Homo sapiens: one gene and its partner. Each later gene encodes a partner of the first gene's protein in a complex. Each region holds a gene or a part of one and is shown on either strand. Other genes may lie near its edges. The genes, in order: ADAP1 and KIF13B.

Region 1 (10,132 bases):
CACGCCCGTAATCCCAGCTACTCGGGAGGCTGAGGCAGGAGAATCGCTTGAACCCGGGAGGCAGAGGTTGCAGTGAGCAGAGATCGTGCCACAGCACTCCAGCGTGGCTGACAGAGCGAGACTCCATCTCAAAAAAAAAAAAAAAAGAGCAACACAATTCTGACACACGCTACAACCCAGGCGATCCTTGGACACACGGTGCCCATGGAGGAAACCAGACACAAAACACCACGAATCGGCCGCACGTGGTGGCTCACACCTGTGATCCCAGCACTTTGGGAGGCTGAGGTGGGAGGATCGCTTGAGCCTGGGAGTTCGGGACCAGCTTGAGCAACATAGTGACACCCTGTCTCAAAAAAAAAAAAAAAAAAAAACAAGACCACGTATTGCATGATTCCATCTGTTTGAAATGTTCAGAACAAGCAAATCCACAGAGACACAAAGCAGCTCTGTCTACATTCAGTAACGGCTGGGGCGGTGGTGATGGGAGGGGTGGTGAGTACCGGCTGTGTTGGGACGTTAAAATGTCCTGAAGTTAGACAGTGGTGATGGTCGTGCAGCCCTGTGGCTTCACTAAAACTACTGAACTGTACGCTTTACGGGAGTGAATTGTATGTGGATTATACCTCAACAAAGCTGTTATTAAAAAATAACCTTCAGGGTTGGGTGTGGTGGCTGAAGCCTGTAATCCCAGCGCTTGGGAGACTGAGGCGGGAGGATCACTTGAGGCCAGGAGTTCAAGACCAGCCTGGGCAACATAGTGAGACCCCCGTCTCTACAAAAAATACAAAAATTAGCCAGGCGTGGTGGTGCACGTCTGTAGTTCCATCTACTCAGGAGGCTGAGGTGAGAGGATCGTTTGAGCCCAGGAGCTTGAGGCTGCACTGAGCTGTGATTGAGCCACTGCCCTCCAGCCTGGGTGACAGAGCAAGACTGTCTCAAAAAAAAAAAAAAAAAAAAAAAAAACCCTCAGGCAGAGAAGGCCTATTTATGTATGCTATAGACCCTAAAACCACAAAATAAAACGCTGACCACTTTGACTATGTCGAAGTAAAAATTTCCACGGCAAAAACCACCATGAGCAAATTCGAAAGACAACCTAGAAAAAAATGTTTTTGGTATCTCAGATTAATTTCTCTAACATACCAGCAACCCCTAGAAGATGAAAACAGCTAACATTGCAGCAGAAAGGCAGGCAAAGGTGTGAAGAGAGTTCACAGGCAAGAAAACACAGGGCCGGGCGCGGTGGCTCACACCTGTAATCCCAGCACTTTGGGAGGCCAAGGCGGGCGGATCACGAGGTCAGGAGTTTGAGACCAGCCTGGCCAACATAGCAAGACCCCATCACTACAAAATTTTTTTTTTTAATTAGCCAGGGCTGGCGCGGTGGCTCACGTCTGTAATCCCAGAACTTTGGGAGGCCGAGGGGGATGGATCACCTGAGGCCAAGAGTTCAAGGCCAGCCTGGCCAACATGGCAAAACCCCGTCTCTATTAAAAATACAAAAATTAGCTGGGCATGGTGGCACACACCTGTGATCCCAGCTACTCGGGAGGCTGAAGCAGGAGAATCGCTTGAATGTGGGAGGTGGAGGTTGCAGTGAGGTGAGATCACACCACTGTACTCCAGCCTGGGAGACAGTGAGACTGTCTCTAAAAAAAAAAAAGTAGCCAGGCACGGTGGTGTATGCCTGTGGTCCTAGCTACTCCTTGGGAGGCTGAGGCAAGAGGATCACTTGAGCCTGAAAGTTCAAGGCTTTAGTGAGCTATGATAGTGCCACTGCATTCCAGCCTGGGCGACAGAGTCAGACTGTGTCTCAAAAAAAAAAAAAAAGAGAAAGGAAGGAAGGAAGGAGGGTAGGGAGGGACGGAGGGACTGAGGGAGGGAGGGAGGGAAGAAAGGAAGGCAGGAGGGAAGGAAGGACGGAAGGAAGGACGGAGGGACGGAGAGACAGAGGGAGGGACGGAAGAAAGGAAGACAGGAGGGAAGGAAGGAGGGAGGGAGGGAGCGAGGCCCACACAGACCCCTGGCTGCCTGGCCAGGGTGGGGACGGTGCTCAAAGGTGGGAGACAGGGAAGGAGACAGCTCCCTTCTGTGACTGTCCTTGGAAACTGCTGAATGTGTCACTAAATTGTCGAAATACATTAAATAAGGTAGAGACGACCCACGTGTCCATCAGAGGGTGAATGAATAAAGCAAACGTGTTCCATCCACACAAGGCATGTTCTCCGGCCTTGAAAGGAACGAAGCTGTCACACAGGCTGCAGCGTGATGGGCCTCGGGGACCTGGCACCGCGGGAAAGGAGTCGGACGCCGAAGCTCACACGCCGTGCGATCCCGTTTTTAAAAGTCCAGAACCCACAAATCTACACAGAGAGAAAGTGGATTTGCAGCTGCTTTGGGCTGGGCGGGGGTAAGAGCCAAAAGGCACGGACTTCCTTTCTGGGGTGATGAAAATGTCCTAATATTGGCTTCAGCGAAGGTTGCACAACTCTGAATTTACTAAAAAACCTTCAACTGTGCCCTTTACACGGTGAAATGTATGGCTGTGAACGGCATCTCTAGGAAGCAGTTGTTTTAAAAGGTATTATCAAGGAATAGAAAGTAGGGAGAAAAAAAAAAAAAAACATAAAATGTGAAGAAAAGGAAAGAAGAGAAGAATCTTTGGTTCCTGGCCCTTCAACCTCGGTCCGGTCCTCAGCAACGGCCACCTCAGGCCCGTTTCTCCCTTAGGGGTGGGAGCAGGCTTAGCCCCCGGATGTCCCCGCTGACCACCAGCCCAGGAATGGCCAAGGGGCCTGAGTGCAGGGAGCCAGGGGGGGCCCAGTGCAGCTCCCGCCCCACAGAGTCCCCAGCAAGAAGCCGGGCTGAGACCCAGCCCTGCCTGGGGGCCGGGGTGCAGGTGCTCTCAGGAGACAAGCCCCCAGGCCTGCCTGAGATTCATCTTTGGTTTTTATCGCACCAGTGAACGTGCAGACAACAGAATGGGGATGGAATCTCCTTGTGGCCCCCAGCTCAGTGCTCTCCCAAAGGCCCCATCGCACCAGACCTCTGCGGCAGGAATCAGGGGTTTCTTGGTAATACCCACGGTGGGCCCTCCCCAGCCTTCCTCTCCAGCCTTCCTCTCCGGCCATCACCCCAGGCAGATCAGGACAGCACCAAGTTGGCCCCTGTCCTCTCCCGCTGATTACATTTAGGGTTTTTCCAACAACAGTGAACGCCCCACCCCTGGGCCCTTGCCCCGTTTGCCCTGGAATTATGGGGACAATAGCCACGTCTTCTCCCCGAGCCAAGGAGTCTGTGCCCCTGGAGGCCCTCCAGGGACTCAGGGCTGTTTCCTCCAGGAGTGATGGCAGAGCAACTTGGAGACGGGACACCCGTCCCATCATCTTTCTGACATTGGTCCCCTGTTGTCCGGGGAGGGGGATGGTCCAGGGGCCACCCTGCCCATTTTTTAGGGAAGGAAACGGAGGCTCAGACAAGCCCACAGCCTGGCGAAGGGATGGATGTCACATCCCAGTGTCCCCCCCTGGGTCAGTGAAGGTGGGTCGAAGGGCGAAGGGACGGATATCACATCCCAGTGTCCCCCACCCAGGTCAGTGAAGGTGGGTCGAAGGCGGTGAGCCCAAGGTGGGCCGGGGTCCTGAGGGGATTCGCAGGGACGCCCTCAACTCAGGGTGTGGGGGATCACGGCATTAAGTGCAGAAGCTGATTTGGGGTCGCCCTGGGTGGGTCAGGGACTCTGCTGTCCTTGGGTCTTTTTCTGTCTCCCAGGCTGGAGCACAAAGGTGCAATCACAACTCACTGCAGCCTCGAATTCCTTGGCTCAGCCAGGCATGGTGGCTCACGCCTGTCATCCCAGCACTTCGGGAGGCTGAGGTGGGTGGATCACCTGCGGTCAGGAGTTCAAGACCAGCCTTGCCAACATGGTGAAACCCTTCTCTACTAAAAATACGAAAATTAGCCGGGCGTGGTGGCGTGCACCTGCAATCCCAGCCACTCGGGAGGCTGAGGCAGGAGAATTGCTTGAGCCCGGGAGGTGGAGCTTGCAGTGAGCCGAGATCATGCTACTGCACTCCAGCCTGGGCGACGAAGCCAGACTCCGTCTCAAAAAAAAAAAAGAATTCCTGGGCTCAAACAATCCTCCTGCCTCAGCCTCCTGAGTGGCTGGGATTACAGGCACCACCCCCACACCTGGTCGAGGCACTGGGATCCCAGCTGTGATTTCTAACAAGCCTCCAGGTGTGACCCATGCACCAAGGCTGCCTGTTAGAAGCAAATGAGCTACTCCCAACCAGGGGCAGGGGTCAGTGGTGCTGGAGAGCCGGGGGCCGGGGTCAGTGGTGCTGGAGAGCCGGGGGCCGGGGGCCGGGGTCAGTGGTGCTGGAGAGCCGGGGGCCGGGGTCAGTGGTGGTGCAGAGCCGGGGACCGGGGTCAGTGGTGCTGGAGAGCCGGGGACCGGGGTCAGTGGTGCTGGAGAGCCGGGGGCCGGGGTCAGTGGTGCTGGAGAGCCGGGGGCCGGGGTCAGTGGTGCTGGAGAGCCGGGGGCCGGGGTCAGTGGTGGTGCAGAGCCGGGGACCGGGGTCAGTGGTGCTGGAGAGCCGGGGACCGGGGTCAGTGGTGCTGGAGAGCCGGGGGCCGGGGTCAGTGGTGGTGCAGAGCCGGGGACCGGGGTCAGTGGTGGTGCAGAGCCGGGGACCGGGGTCAGTGGTGCTGGAGAGCCGGGGACCGGGGTCAGTGGTGCTGGAGAGCCGGGGGCCGGGGTCAGTGGTGGTGCAGAGCCGGGGACCGGGGTCAGTGGTGCTGGAGAGCCGGGGGCCGGGGTCAGTGGTGCTGGAGAGCCGGGGGCCGGGGTCAGTGGTGGTGCAGAGCCGGGGACCGGGGTCAGTGGTGCTGGAGAGCCGGGGACTGGGGTCAGTGGTGCTGGAGAGCCGGGAGCCGGGGTCAGTGGTGCTGGAGAGCCGGGGGCCGGGGTCAGTGGTGGTGCAGAGCCGGGGACCGGGGTCAGTGGTGCTGGAGAGCCGGGGGCCGGGGTCAGTGGTGCTGGAGAGCCGGGGGCCGGGGTCAGTGGTGGTGCAGAGCCGGGGACCGGGGTCAGTGGTGCTGGAGAGCCGGGGACTGGGGTCAGTGGTGCTGGAGAGCCGGGAGCCGGGGTCAGTGGTGCTGGAGAACCAGGGGCTGGGATCAGTGGTCCTGGAGAGGGGGTGCCAGAGTCAGTGGTGTTGGAGAGGGGGGGCCCAGGGTCAATGGTGCTGGAGAGGGGAGAGACATGTACAGGAGGCCACCAGCCTCTACGACCCTCCCCATCCCCACAGCAGCCCCCAGACCACCACTCTCACCTCCATGCGGCCCTTCGGTCCCACTCACAGCAGTCAGGAAGATCAATGGCTTCCAGACCCCAAGTCCCACGAGTGGGGCTGGGGTGACCCTCCCACCGGGTCTTCAGGCCCCACGCTCCATCCGACCTGCAGCCCCCAGCCGGGGTCTTGTTCCTTCTCCACCTCCCTCGGGGTCTCCCTACGGGGCCCTTCCTGCCGCCTCCAGCATGCGTGGCCCCTCCCTGCACGCCAGGGCTTCCTGGTTGGCTCACACCCGTCTCCCTCCCCATAGGGGCGTCTCTAGGGCCCCACGAAGCATCTGTGGCTGGTGTCCCTGCCTGGCCATGCCAAGTGCTCCGTGAAGCCTCATCAGATGCATGGGTGAGAGGTGGGCAGTGGCTGTGTCACCTCAGAGGCCGCCCAGGGGACAGGTAATGGTGCCCTACACGGCAGCGGGCCGGGGTGCACGTGGACTGCCGTGTAAATGCGACCCTGACTCTGGGTCGTGCCGCGCGGCCTGGGACGCTGCATTCTGTTTCCTTAGAGACAGGGTCTCTTTTACCCTGAGCCCAGTGCTCCAGGTGTGGGGATTTGAGGGGAGCACTCCGGAGCTCCCAGGGCACGGGAATCGGCGACCCGCCTTCGCTCCCTGGCCCACCACACACACCTGGAGCTGCTCACAGAGAGGTTGGACCCGGCACGGGGTGGGTGGAGCAGCCACACAGGCGGAGCCGCTGGAGAGGGGGCGGGGTCCTCGGGTCCAGCCAGCCAGGCCCCCAGAGTAGCCCAAGGCTCCAGGGGCCACAGCCAGGCCGCCCGGCATCTCTGGCTCCAGAGGCCCGGGCTGAGGCCACCCGGGGACTGCGCGGGTCCCCCCGCCCCTCCCCCTCCGTACCTCCACTTGGGCCTCCTCCCAGGCGTCCAGGCGGACGGACTTCACCTTGCTGACCTGGGGGATATTCCGGTGGATTCCCGAGCAGCTCAGGCAGATGAAGACGCCCAGAGTGTAGGAGGCCCAGTCGGGATCTGCAAGGGAAAGCCGGACGTTCACGGAGGCTCAGCCCAGGGACCCCGGAGGGAGGGTGGACGGAGCCTCGAGTCAGGAGCCCCCGGCCATGCAGTGGGGGGGGCTTCAGCGGAGACCCCCGGGTACACCAGGCTCCGTGCGCCCCACAGGCACCTAACCCCAGCTCCCCCCCCGCCCTCTGCCCGGTGCAGACGGGGCTCTCCCCAGACACCCCACGGCATCTGAGGAAGCCGATCTGCATGCACCTGCTCTGCCCCGCGGGTGCCGGGAACCTCCAGCAGAGGCCGGCCCCACAGGAGCCCATGCCCCGGGCTGGAGGGCACCCGGCACTCGTGAGGATGGGTCCACCTGCTTTCCTCGTGTCCGCTGCCCTGGGAGAAGTCTGTGGGCCCGAATCCTCCTGGGTGATGGGGCCAAGATTGGGAAATTCAGATAGGATCTGAGTGCAGGGGGTGCCTCACACCCAACGCGCTGCACACCCCCGAAGGACGGATGGTAGCCGCGGATGACGACGCACCCTGCGTGGGGTGACAGCGCCCGGCGGCCACTAACTTTGCAGGTGTGACAGCGGCGCTGTGGCTTCACCCTGCATGTGGCCTGTCTAGGGATTCCACGTCTCGATGTCTGGTTTGCCTTAAAAGGTCCAACAAAGCTGGACACAGTGGCTCAGGCCCGTAATCCCAGCGCTTTGGGAGGCTGAGGGAGCAGAATTTTTTTTGAGACATAGTCTGTTGCCCAGGCTGGAGTATGATGGCACGATCTCGGCTCGCTGCAACCTCTGCCTCCCGGGTTCAAGCGATTCTCCTGCCTTAGCCTCCCGAGTAGCGAGGCACGCACCACCATGCCCGGCTAACTTTTGTATTTTTAGTGGAGATGGGGTTTCATCATGTTGGCCAGGCTGGCCTCGAACTCTTGACCTCAAGTAATCCACCTGCTCGGCCTCCCAAAGTGCTGGGATGACAGGCGTGAGCCACTGCCCAGGGTGTGGGTGCCACAGCGCAGTCTTTCTGCTGCTGCACGTGTGAAATGTCTCATTCTGAAACGGCAAAATGTGGGGAGCGTCCAGCCCCGCCCTGGGGCGATGGCTAAGAGGGCTGCTGTGTGACTCTCCTGTTTTCTTCTGGCTCCCAACGACCCTTCACAATAAGTCAAGGGAGTGGAATGGCTGAAAGGCACCCTAGAGAGAACAGTCTCTCTGGGGGAGATGAGTCATCTCTGAACTGCTTTTATTTTTAAGTGGAGGCTCTCCTGGGTGAGGCTGGTGGAAATCGAGGCGCTTCCCCACAAGCAGGTGCGGCTGTGGACCCAAGCCTGTTTGGGGAATCATGAGTGGAGAGGACCCCACCCTTCAGGCCTGGCGGAGGATAGCCCCCCTCCCAACGCTGATCGGGGCCCACCCCTGGCTGGTGGGGGACTCCCATGCCAGGCGGCGGAGGCCCAGTGGGGCTGGGGCTGGGCCTGGGCTCTGAGTCACTGCCAGGAGGAGAGGCACCCAAGTGAGCCCCCGGCCGGGGATGGTGCGTGAGAACCAGCAGGCTGAACCTCGGATTTGGGGGTCATGCCCGGCCTCTGGGATTTGGGGGTCACGCCGGGCCTCGGATTTGGGGGTCACGCCCGACCTCTGGGATTTGGGGGTCACGCCCGGCCTCTGGGATTTGGGGGTCACGCCCGACCTCTGGGATTTGGGGGTCACGCCCGACCTCTGGGATTTGGGGGTCACGCCCGGCCTCTGGGATTTGGGGGTCACGCCCGACCTCTGGGATTTGGGGGTCATGCCTGGCCTCTGGGATTTGGGGGTCATGCCTGGCCTCTGGGATTTGGGGGTCACGCTGCACATCTGGGATTTGGGGGTCACGCCGGGCCTCTGGGATTTGGGGGTCACGCCCGACCTCTGGGATTTGGGGGTCACGCCCGGCCTCTGGGATTTGGGGGTCACGCCCGACCTTTGGGATTTGGGGGTCATGCCCGGCCTCTGGGATTTGGAGGTCATGCCCGGCCTCTGGGATTTGGAGGTCATGCCCGACCTCTGGGATTTGGGGGTCACGCCCGGCCTCTGGGATTTGGGGGTCACGCCCGACCTCTGGGATTTGGGGGTCACGCCCGGCCTCTGGGATTTGGGGGTCACGCCCGACCTCTGGGATTTGGGGGTCATGCCCGGCCTCTGGGATTTGGGGGTCATGCCCGGCCTCTGGGATTTGGGGGTCATGCCCGACCTCTGGGATTTGGGGGTCATGCCCGGCCTCTGGGATTTGGGGGTCACGCTGCACATCTGGGATTTGGGGGTCATGCCCGGCCTCTGGGATTTGGGGGTTTTCTGTCACAGCTGTTAGGCTCCCTGATTAATGAAGCCTGTCTCCCCATTAACGTGGGCTTCTTGAGGACCCCAGACCCAGCACCCCCGGATCTGGCACAGAGCTCAGTCCGGAGCAGGTCTCCACGGGAGTCATGAATGAAGGGGCCACTAACAGCCCTACTTCAGCAGAGCCCCTGTCTTCGAGAGAGACCACAGGCTTTCTCCTCACCCCTCAGTCAGTCAAACATTTGCCCAAGTGACCCTGTCTCGGGTACCAGGAGTTTTGCCTGTGCTGAGTAGGGCGGCTTTTGGGAGAAAGAATGCGGTTACAGGATCAGCCGTTGTTTGGTTTTGCGGGGTTTTTTTTGTCTTGTATTGTATTGTTTTGTTTTGAGACAGGGTCTTGCCCTGTTGCCCAAGGTGGAGTGCAGTGGTGCAATCACAGCTCACAGCTCACTGCAGCCTCCAACGCCTGGGCTCAAGCGATCCTCCTGCCTCAGCCTTCCAAGTAGCTGGGACCGCAGGCATGCACCAGCATACCCAGCTAATTTTTAAAATTTTTGGTAGAGATGAAGTCTCTCTATGTTGCCCAGCTTGGGCTTGAACTCCTGGGCTCAAGCGATCCTCCTGTCTTGGCCTCCTAAAGTGTTGGGATTACAGATGTGTGACGCCGTGTCTGGCCTGCAAAGTATTTAGTTACACACACCCCTGGAGAACAGGTGGGGAAGAACCACACTGAAGTCCCAGAAGAGAGAGACCTGACTCCCCCCGGGCTCCGTCTTCTCCCGAAGCCTTGGTGAAAGATGCCGCAAATGCTCGGTACGTGGCTGTGCGAGGGGCGCCCAGAAGGCACGCCAGTCTCCGGGCCTCGGTCTCCTCATCTGTCGGATGGGACAGCACGAGCCACTTACAGGGGTAGCAGGCAACATGAGCCCAGCTGGGAACATCACCGCTCGGGGTGCAGTGGGGGGCCCTCCTTCTCACCGCATGGCAATGCTGTTGGTTCTGCTCCGACAGTGTGGACCACGGACCCAGGCTTCCTGTCTCATGGCCTTTATCTGCCCATCTAGAAATTCTGAGGGAGGCTGAGCAACGGCCACCAACAGCTCCCGCCCAGCCCAGGGTCCAGAATGCCTGTGCCCACCTCCAACCTCACTCGGGTGCTCCGGGACAGGCTGTCCCTCTCCTGGCCTGGAAGGAGGCCTGTTCACAGAACCCAGGGAGCTGGGCCTGGAAGGAGGCCTGTTCATGGAACCCGTAGCAGGAGCTGGACTCTACGGCGTGGACCAGCTGCCTGTTGTTGTAAATAAGGTGTTACTGGAACTCAGCCATGCCCATTTATGAACTGTCTATAGCTGCTTTTGTGAGCGGTCGTTGACTAGCTGTGATGGAGACTCTACGGCCCTAAAATATTTACTGTCATTTTTGTTGTTTTTTGAGACAGAGTTTCGCTCTTGTTGTCCAGGCTGGAGTGCAATGGTGTGATCTCAGCTC
Region 2 (10,046 bases), on another chromosome or scaffold:
AAAGCCACCTTCTCCTGTCCCTTCATTTCCTAAGGGTCACCTCTATCTTCACTGACTACCAGCATCTTCTAAGCTTCCTCGCACTTGCTGGGTTTTTCCTTTGCCTGTTGATTCACAGCTGCTTAATTTTGACCGACTTCCTTATGCTTCCCATTCACAAGGCTTCATTTTCAGCAAGCGCTTTTAAATCCTGCCCAGCTATGCCAGAAATCGGTCATCTACTGAAGCTTCCAATCTTGCTTTGGGATCTAGCAATCTTTCCCCGTTGTGTTTGTGTCCAAGCCCCATACAAGGTCCCAAGAAGCAAAACAGAGTGCGTGGACCAGCCACCCTAGGTCCGGACTTCTGGCCTGGCTGCTTTCAGGGCTTCCTGCAATCCACCTGACCTTTCCTGTCCCATCATTCTCTAGCTATCCTCACAGAATCTCCATTCTGGCAGGCAGATCTCATCTCTGCTGCCTAAACCTGCTTTACTCATTCTAGTCTCTGTGTCCTCACTCTCAGGCCATACTTCCTCCTCAAAGAATACATGCCATCCCCTCTCCCGTGCTCACATCATAAGCTTCCTCCCTGGAAGTCCAACCAAAGTTCACCCTCCTCAGTGAAGTCTAAACTCCTCTCGATTCCCTTATTTCCCTGTCATTCACCTGGCACTTAGTAACTAGCAGCCTGCTACAGCTGTTTACCTTTTAATCTAATCTTTTCACAGGCATTTTCTTTTCAAGCCCATGACAGTCATTTCCTCACAGGCATGAACCATAAAGCATGCTTTAAGAAACTGAATATGATGGTAACAGGCAACCCTAAGAAAACTTTTAGGAAGTAAAATCCCCCTAACAAGAACAATCAATTTCACTTTTTCATGTTTCTTTCTAGCTCTTGCCCATTCCTGTATACATTTTTACATAGTAATAATAATAGATTTGATCAGTTACACGTACAGCTTTACATTCTTTTTCCACTAACAGAGAAAACGATCTTCCTTGTTAAATGGTTTTGACTGTCATCATTTTAATCGCTGTATAATAGTCCCTCCATTGAGATACTAGATCATGATTACCAAGGCACTGACTCTACATTGACTCTATTAGACATTATTACATACTTCTGTGTCTTTCACCACATCAAGTATTGGAAAATGCCAAGTAAACTCATTTGAAATATCTCCTGAAATAAATTTCTTGTCCATTCTCCCTAACACCTGAAATAATCTATTTCACTGTTTCTATCTTCATTTCTTTCGTTTCCCGGTTCTACCCCCTTAGGCTAGGTAGGTAACAAAGGTATTCCAAACACCTTTTATAGATATTTACTTATTTTGGTAGTTGATCTTATACAGATTTACACACAGGAAATCCCTTGAGGAAAAGCATTAAGATCTCATCCTATCTAATATAAGCCAGATACCTGGCAGGCACTCAATCAATGTTTGCTTACCTATTAAATGTTTTTTAAGCCACCTAAAGTTAGAAAACATCAAATTCCTGGAAAGGAGAATGTTGCTGATCTAACTAATCCCACCAATTACGGCTACAGAACTTTCAGCTCCTGTAATGATTAGACGGGTTAATAATGTATGAATGGGTGTTCTGTGCGGCACATGGAAGCACACAAGAATTATCTGTTTAGCTGTACAGTCTGAACAACAACACTGGAAAACAAACGATATCTGCAAATAGAACTTGAAGATCTTGTGACAAAAATTTACCCTTTTCTCTAGTTGTTTAGCTTTGCATCTCAGATGAAGAAAGGCAAAATAAAGGTTGTAATATTAAAATTATGTAAAATTACATACACGTGTGAGCACAAACTGGCATGGAAATGAAAAGCTGTTAGGATGAAGAAAGTATGTGAACTTTTTTCTTTTTCTTTTTCCTTTTGTTAGTGGAATGTTAAAATAAATGTATGACTAGACAAATATTTCTGACAAATTAGCCATTACAACTCTTCCTGTTACTGAATTAGGGCCTAATGCTTAACCTTCAAATAACTAAGGTTCCCAAACCCACATACAGTTTAGCAGAAAGACTAAAATACTCTCACTTCGAGGATAACTGTTAAATAATAAATCAGCTAACCACCTTAAAACTCCAAACACCTAAGCACAACCACTGAATCACACAAGAACTTAATACACCAGAGTTTTCTGGAAATTTTCAGATTTTCCTCAAAAGATAGCTAATGTGATTCCAAATATCAGAGTCTACACAGTAAAACTACATCATCACAGTAACCCATTCTCATCCCCGTCCTCTTTTATAGATAGCGATTTATAAGGTTGCTTCCGGCACCTATATGATAGAAACTATTAGGACTCAAGTTTTACTCTTTGTCATAATTATACAGTATTACATAATACTAATAACTGTTCAAAGTAATATTCTTTTCAAAATTACTGGAAAGGTTCCTACAGATCATACAAGGAAGAAAAAAAAGGAAATTACTGGAAAGAAATATGGTTTTGTTTTAGTCTTTTTTTTTTTTGAGACAGAGTTTCACTCTTGTCGCCCAGGGTGGAGCACAGTGGCACGATCTTGGCTCACTGCAACCTCCGCCTCCTGGGTTCAGGCTATTCTCCCGCCTCAGCCTCCTTAGTAGCTGGGATTACAGGCGTCCACCACCACGCCCGGCTAATTTTTTGTATTTTTAGTAGAGACAGGGTTTTGCCATGTTAGGCAGGCTGGTCTCGAACTCCTGACCTCAGGTGATCCACCCGCCTCGGCCTCCCAAAGTGCTGGGATTATAAGCGTAAGCCACCGTGCCTGGCCTGTTTTAGTCTTTTTATACAAACTTTGGACACCAATTTTTAAAAATCACTGGATTTACAATCCCACCACACTGTATTCCATAATAACCTTTATATTTATGTGAACAATTACTTCATAACAAAAATGGAAAAGAACAAATTTATGTGTGGTAATCACTGAAAAAAGAAGTCCACATGCACGTCAGGAAATATAAGGCTAAGAATGGGCACTAAGTGAACACAGGAGGTACTTTACACCAAATAATGCACTTCTCTATATAGGCTAATGGAATCTATGGGTAAACCTCAATTTCAAAATGATTGTTGAACCCAAGGATCAGCTCACATCCGTTCCACAGCTAAAACTATTATTCTTTGCCTTCCTCTAAACTCTGATGTTTATTACAACCTTATCAATGGCAATTTATAAGAGAAAAGCATAAGAATTTCCCTCAAAAAGTGAAACCAATGGGGAAAGGGAGAGGGAAAGGGCTCTAAATATCTGAGATGTCTTTTGTGGTGGTTGGTTAGCGGCCTCTTTTTAGCACTGACATTTCCAAGTTTTTTGTGAAAAGGAAATTTTAAGAATGTGCTGAAACCATCCTTTCAGAATCAATTCCCAGATAAGTTATGTTTCATTTGGCTTCTTTCTTTAAATTATTGTGATGGTAAACTGGAAGTAAACTGAAATACAGATACCTGAATATTTAAAAACTGATGCTTCTGAAAATTTTCAGAATTGTATCGACGTTTATTGTGTGTTGTCAGAGCACGAGATTAGTGAAGCAAAGCAGGACTCAATCTTGCACTAGTTGAGAACTTAAAGTAATTAAGTTCTTAGGGAAAAAAACTCACCTGACAGCTTTAATCGGACCTAGCAGGAACAGGACAAAACAATTCCCATAGATGAGATAACTCCAAGCGAGAAACCAATTTCCCCGAGAAGGACAAACCAACAAAGCTTATGTCAACTGGTTGATCTGTATGTCTCAATATATACAAAAGAAAGCAAAGAAGAGGAAAACAACCTATAATTTCTACATAAAAATTAAACAACACTTGATTTTGCTAAGAAGCTACAACTTTGTCTCTGGTACTTAAATGATTCTAATTAGTTCAAAGTCTCATCAATGGCAAAGTCATCTCCTGAGACAGTAATAGTGACCCCCAATGACAGGACCTTGTATATAAAGCGTTTTCAAACACATTATCTTATTTAAAGCAACTCACCCAGTCATGCTGCTTTGACTATCAAAGCCAAGACCCAGCCCACCTCCTCCCCTGACTTTTGGGGTTCTCTCCACTCCCCGGGTCTACAGATTATTTAAATGTACTCGGTTTATCTGCCTTCTCTACACTCCCTGCAGAGTTAAGAGAATGTCAGAAAGATACAATTCCACAAGAATCTTGGCACTTTAGCTATTTATTGAGAGATGATGAATGAGACTTCAGGCAAAACCAAAACTTTCTCAACTGTCCAAAAACAACGAAAAGGGCATCTCCTCCACCTGACCCCAATCTCAGGACGCCCAGGTGGAAGGAACTCGCCGCGGGGCACCCGCCTGGCCCCCTGCCCTTCTTCCCGCCGCGGGCCAAGGCGGTGCAGGCTTGGGCGACCCGGGCGAGACGCGGGGTCCCGGGGGGTCCCGGGCGGTCCCGAGGCGGGCTGCAGGGGCTGGCGACCCGCGCGCGGGGGCGACGATGACAGCTGGCGGGGAAGGAGCGAGGCTGAGGGGCCAGGACGAGGCTGGGCGCGAGGGCCGAGGGCGCCCTCGGGAACCTCCGGGGGAGACGAGAGGGCAAAAGGGCGCAGGGGCGGGGCGGGCGCAGGCGGAAGGGGCAGCGGGGCCGGCACGAGGGGCCCGACGGCGCCAGGGACGGGGCTGGCCAGGGGGGAAGGGAGGGGAGAAGAGGGAGCCGGGCGTCTCAGCGCGGGAGCGGGTTTCAGGGTCCCCGGGCCCCTCCTCGCGCCCCGCCGCTGACTATAGGGGCGGGGCCGCCGGACCCCCCACGGCGGCCGAGGGAAGGGCGCGCCAGGCACCTGCCGCCTCCGCCCCGGCGGCCCAGGAGGGCTCGGCTCTCACCTCGCCGGTTCATGGGTCGTATCCGCACCGCCACTTTCACTTTGGAGTCCCCCATCCTGCAGCCGCCGAGGAACTCGTTCGGCTTCCGTCTGCCGCGGCCACCGGCGACTCTTCGGGGTTGACCCGGCGGGAGGGGGCCGGGGGCGGAGCCGGGGGTGGGGACCGGGCTGGGGGCGGGGCCGGCGCGAGCTCCGGGCGCTCCCCGCTGTATGGCGGGACTTGTAGTTCCCCAGGGTCGTCGTGGGCGGGGCCGCAGCGAAGGCGGGGGCGGGAATGCTCGGGCGCGAGTCGTTTGCTACAACTTACCTACAGCAATGACGGCTTTTGTAAATTACACACCATTCTTGCTCTCGCAGCCAGTATTGAGAAGTAAGCCTTCAAGAGCTGATACCTCTTCTGAAAAACAATTGAATAGATGGCGTCAGGGACCCCGCTACCTCTTCCTGCTCATTTCCTGCCAATCTTAGTGTTTGATCCCTGGCTCAAGTTATTTCCTCTGCCTGGATTGACGTCCGGCCTTGTTTGCTGAGCTCGTCCTTCACGACAAGTTGCAAATCACGTTTTCTGGGAGTGTCCATAGGTCCACGGGTTAACATTGTCCTGTGAGTCCCCCTCCTTTGAGACAGGACCTTGGGCTCTGAAAACCATCTGAGTTCAAAGCCCACCTCAGCGCTTCCCACTGTGTGACCAGGGGCAAGTTATTTGACCGCTCTGGGCTTGTCTTTAATATGAAAAGTGGATATGATACTAATACCTAGTAAAATAGGTACATTTTTAAATAAGATTAACATATGTGTAACCTAGCCTTTAGTAGAGACCCATAAACATTAATTGCATGAATTAATGAATGAGGCCACACTAAAATTAGCTTTTTATTAGCCCTGGCAGACATTCTAACAGGTGGCCTGGGTGCCAGAGCCAGCACGCAAACATGTTCTGTTTGGCCCAACAGTGTTGGCCAACACATAAAAATCAGATTTGTGGCCAGGTGCAGGGGCTCACACCTGGAATCCCAGCATTTTAGGATGCTGAGGCAGGAGGATTGCTTGAGGCCAGGAGTTTGAGACCAGCTTGGGTAACAGAGTGTGAAATCAGATTTGTGCATGCAGTACTGGGCCTACATTACATATTGGACAGAGTGGATTGGAACTAAATAGCAGCAGCCACCTTTATCAGAGACCCGTCTCTCCACTTCACCACGGCCCCCCTCCAGGTGGCTTTACCACACATGCGCCTGGACCTTGTGGGTTTGTGACCCCTGCTTAGATGTGTTTAAATGATAGTAATAGAACTCAGAACCATTTTACAGATGAGTAAATACAGAAAGCTGGTAAGACTTGCCCTTTTACCAACCATCCTGTTATTGAGTATCTTCAATACAAGCAATGTTGTCAAAAAGTATAAAAATACTTTTTTTTTTTTGAGATGGATCTAGCTCTGTCACCCAGGCTGGAGTACAGTGGCATGATCTCGGCTCACTGCAACCTCCACCTCCTGGCTTCAAGCGACTCTCATGCCTCAACCTCGACAGTAGCTGGGATTACAGGCATGTGCCACCAATCCTGGCTAATTTTCATATTTTTAGTAGAGACGTAGTTTTGCCATGTTGACCAGGCTGGTCTCGAACTCCTGACCTCAGGTGATCCACCCACCTCAGTCTCCCAAAGTGCTGGGATTACAGGCATAAGCCACTGTGTCCGGTCTAAAAATACCTTTAAAAGAAAGGAAATTCTGAAACATGCTGCAACATGGATGATGGGCCTTGAAAACATTATGCTAGGTGAAATAAGCCAGACACAAAAGAACAACCACTGCATGGTTCTACATATATGAGATACACATGGTAGTCAAATTCATGGAGATAGAAAGTAGACTGGAGGTTACTAAGGGCTAGGAGAAGGGGGTATGAGGAGTTAGTATTCAATGGGTGCAGAGATTCGGCTTGGGAAGATTTCAGCTGCGGAAATGAATGGTGGTGATGGTTGCACAACAATGTAAATGTACTTAACGCCACCTAACCACTTAAGAGTGGTTAAGGCAGTAAGGTTTTTTGGGTTTTTTTAGAGACAGGATCTCGCTCTGTTTGCCCAGACTGGAGTGCAGTGGTGTGATCATAGCTCACTGCAGCCTCAAACTCCTGGGCTCAAGCGATTTTCCTGCTTCAGCCTCTCACCTAGATGGAATTACAGGTACGCACCACGACACCTAGCTAATTTTTATATTTCATTTTTTGGTAGAGATGGAGTCTCGCTATGTTGTCCAGGCTGGTCTTGAACTCTTGGCCTCAAGTAATCCTCCTCACTTCAGCCTCCCAAAGCACTAGGATTACAGGTGTGAGCCATTACACCCAGCCAAGATGGTAAGCTTTTTGTTGTTGTTTGTTTGTTTGTTTGAGATGGAGTCTTGCTCTGTCGCCCAGGCTGGAATGCAGTGAGTGACATGATCTCTGCTCACTGCAGTCTCTGCCTCCTGGGTTCAAGTGATTCTCCTGCCTCAGCCTCCAGAGTGACTGGGATTACAGGTGTGCACCATCACACACAGCTAATTTTTATATTTTTAATAGAGATGGGGATTCACCATGTTGGCCAGGCTGGTCTCAAACTCTTGACCTCAAGTGATCCACCCACCTCAGCCCCCCCAAAATGCTGGGATTACAGGTGTGAGCCACTGTGCCTGGCCAATAGTAAGTTTTATGTTACGTGTTTTTTATCAAAATTTCAAAAAAGGTTAAAAATAGAAAATGCTACCCCAGAAGGCCCTCTTTTTTAAAAAAGGAAATTTCTTTCTTAGGGGCACTGCCTCTGCACTTCAGGAGGTCTCATCTAGACCAGCAGTGGGTTTAGTGCAGCAGGTCCTTTGATTTTCACAGCCCAATAAAGTAAACAACATCAGGATAACCAAATTAGGATTGCCAATCTCAGTGTTTGACACTATGACAGCTTCTTAATTTTAGCAAGTATATATTTTTTTGAGACAGGGTCTCATTCTGTGCCCAGGCTGGAGTGCAGTGGCACCATCTTAGCTCACTGCAGCCTCAACCTCCCAGGCTCAAGCGATCCTCCCACCTTAGCCTCCCAAGTAGCTGGGACTACAAGCATGCACCACCATGCCCAGCTGATTTTTAAATTTTTTGTAGAAACAGTGTCTCGCTATGTTACCCACTCTGGTCTTGAACCCATGACCTCAAGTGATCCTCCCACCTCAGCCTCCCAAAGTGTTGGAATTACAGGTGTGAGCCATTGTGCTAGGTCACCGAGTAAATTATTTGAAAAAGAATGCACACAAAAATTACTATCTACCATCACTATCTTTTTTTTTTTTTAAAAAAGATCATAAAGGGTATGATTTTATATTGAAATTGTTTTGCCCTACTGTTCTTTTGCTCTTATTTAGTGTTGAAGTCACCTTTGCCATGGCCCCAGACTGGTTACCACAGGTTGGTACTCTTGTCTTAAACACACATCCTAATTACCACCTCCCTACATTCAGGTTATAAAAAATAAGGATTTGGAATGTCCCAAGATTCCATACGTCACTTTATATCTCTTTTATAACCAGGTAAATTTAATTTTTAAATGGCACGTCCTGGTGCTAGCTTGAATCTGGCTTTTTAAACAGAGTCAAAGCAGGCAGAAAAAGAGAACAAGAGAACATTTCTATGGAAATATTGTGTTTAAACTTAAGCTGAAACTGAAAAGAGAGGAAAGCCCCTAAGGACCTCAAGGAAGGGAAGAATAGAATAGAGAAGAAGTGAGGACTTTCTCTAAAGTCCTCAAAACCATTTAAAATGTTCTGAAAATATTTAGAGGAAAAGGACAGTAGCCTCCCTAGGGACTGCAGGGAAGAACCCCTGTGAGCTGTTTCCCCTTTTGACTTCTGTTCATACTACTCTGTCTCCTTTGACTTTTGCAGTGAAGATGATTCTTAAAAGAGAGCCCAGCCAGGCGCGGTGGCTCACGCCTGTAATCCCAGCACTTTGGGAGGCCGAGGCGGGTGGATCACAAGGTCAGGAGATGGAGACCATCCTGGCTAACACAGCGAAACCCCGTTTCTACTAAAAATACAAAAAAAATTTGCTGGGCGTGGTGGCGGGCACCTGTAGTCCCAGCTACTCCGGAGACTGATGCAGGAGAATGGCGTGAACCTGGGAGGCAGAGCTTGCAGTGAGCTGAGATCGCGCCACTGCATTACAGCCTGGGCGACAAAGTGAGACTCCGTCTTCTAAAAAAGAAAAGAAAAGAAAAAGAAAAAAAGAGAGAGAGCCCAAGACTAGAAATGCCCATATCTTCCCATGGAAAGTGTTCCTCTGATAGGCGGGAGACAGAGGACCAAATTGCAAGTTACAACCTGCAGCCTGGGAGTTTCAGGGGCTTCAACACCAAATGAAATTGGAGAACTATCAACAGGATTCAGGGTTCAGCACAGGCTCCAGCAAGACAGAGAGAAAAGTCCTGGTTTTTCTCTCTCTCTTTTTTCTCTTTTTTTTTTTTTTTTCCGAGACAGGGTCTCGCCCTGTCGCCCAGGCTGGAATGCAGTGGCACAGTCTCGGCTCACTGCAACCTCCTCCTCCTGGGCTCAAGTGATTCTTCTGCCTCAGCCTCCCGAGTAGCTGGGATCACAGGCGCCCACGACCATGCCCGGCTAATTTTTGTAGTTCTAGTGGAGACGGGGTTTCGCCATGTTGGTCAGGCTGGTCTCAAACTCGCCACCTCAGGTGATCCGCCCACCTCGGTTTCCCAGGGTACTGGGATGACAGGTGTGATCCACTGCACCTGGCCAGTTTCTCTCTTTTCAACTATTAGAGGAAAAAGAAACAAAGAACTAGTAAATAAGGCATTCCCTTGTACCTGTTTCTTAAAGCAAGTACTTAGGAAATCAACAAGTATTTATGGTGTAGATTCTATAGCCATTTTGATAGAGCTGTTGAATTTTAGCTGTGCAGATAAGGAGTTTCTCATTTTTTGCCCTCACATTTTGCAAATCTGCTCATTCCTAAACTGATTTCTAGTTTTCTTTTTATGGCTTTGATCTACCCATTCAGTAGTTTCTGATGGTCCCTTCATAGGCTATAGAAGTCACTTTGTCCTATCTTTTTTTTTTTGAGATGGAGTCTTGCTGTGTCACGATTTCCCTGCTTGCCTGAGACCTACCTTTGTGAGAGCACTTAGTTTTCCCAATTATAAGCATACCTTCATCTGCCTCCCCAGCTACGCTGT

Evidence for each region.
Region 2: the proteins of ADAP1 (region 1) and KIF13B are in contact, whole or in part, in a crystal structure (PDB 3MDB), measured with the Homo sapiens proteins. Residues at the interface, in NP_006860.2 of Homo sapiens: Trp137, Asn143, Gly144, Gln145, Phe146, Leu147, Pro186, Ala187, Lys188, Ile189, Gly190, His191, Pro192, His193, Tyr211, Glu213; in NP_056069.2 of Homo sapiens: Val451, Asn452, Leu453, Asn454, Ala455, Asp456, Pro457, Leu463, Arg512, Phe514, Asn516, Gly517, Arg531, Leu533, Asn536, Asn537, Phe539.

The regions. Positions count from the first base shown.
Region 1 is NC_000007.14:929,162-939,293, forward strand, and holds part of ADAP1 (arf-GAP with dual PH domain-containing protein 1), read right to left. Parts: intron 6,345-10,132; coding exon 6,214-6,344; intron 1-6,213. UniProt on the Homo sapiens protein: GTPase-activating protein for the ADP ribosylation factor family. Binds phosphatidylinositol 3,4,5-trisphosphate (PtdInsP3) and inositol 1,3,4,5-tetrakisphosphate (InsP4). Regulates the incorporation of CD63 and CD9 into multivesicular bodies.
Region 2 is NC_000008.11:29,258,150-29,268,195, forward strand, and holds the start of KIF13B (kinesin-like protein KIF13B), read right to left. Parts: upstream 4,922-10,046; 5' UTR 4,886-4,921; coding exon 4,831-4,885; intron 1-4,830. UniProt on the Homo sapiens protein: Involved in reorganization of the cortical cytoskeleton. Regulates axon formation by promoting the formation of extra axons. May be functionally important for the intracellular trafficking of MAGUKs and associated protein complexes.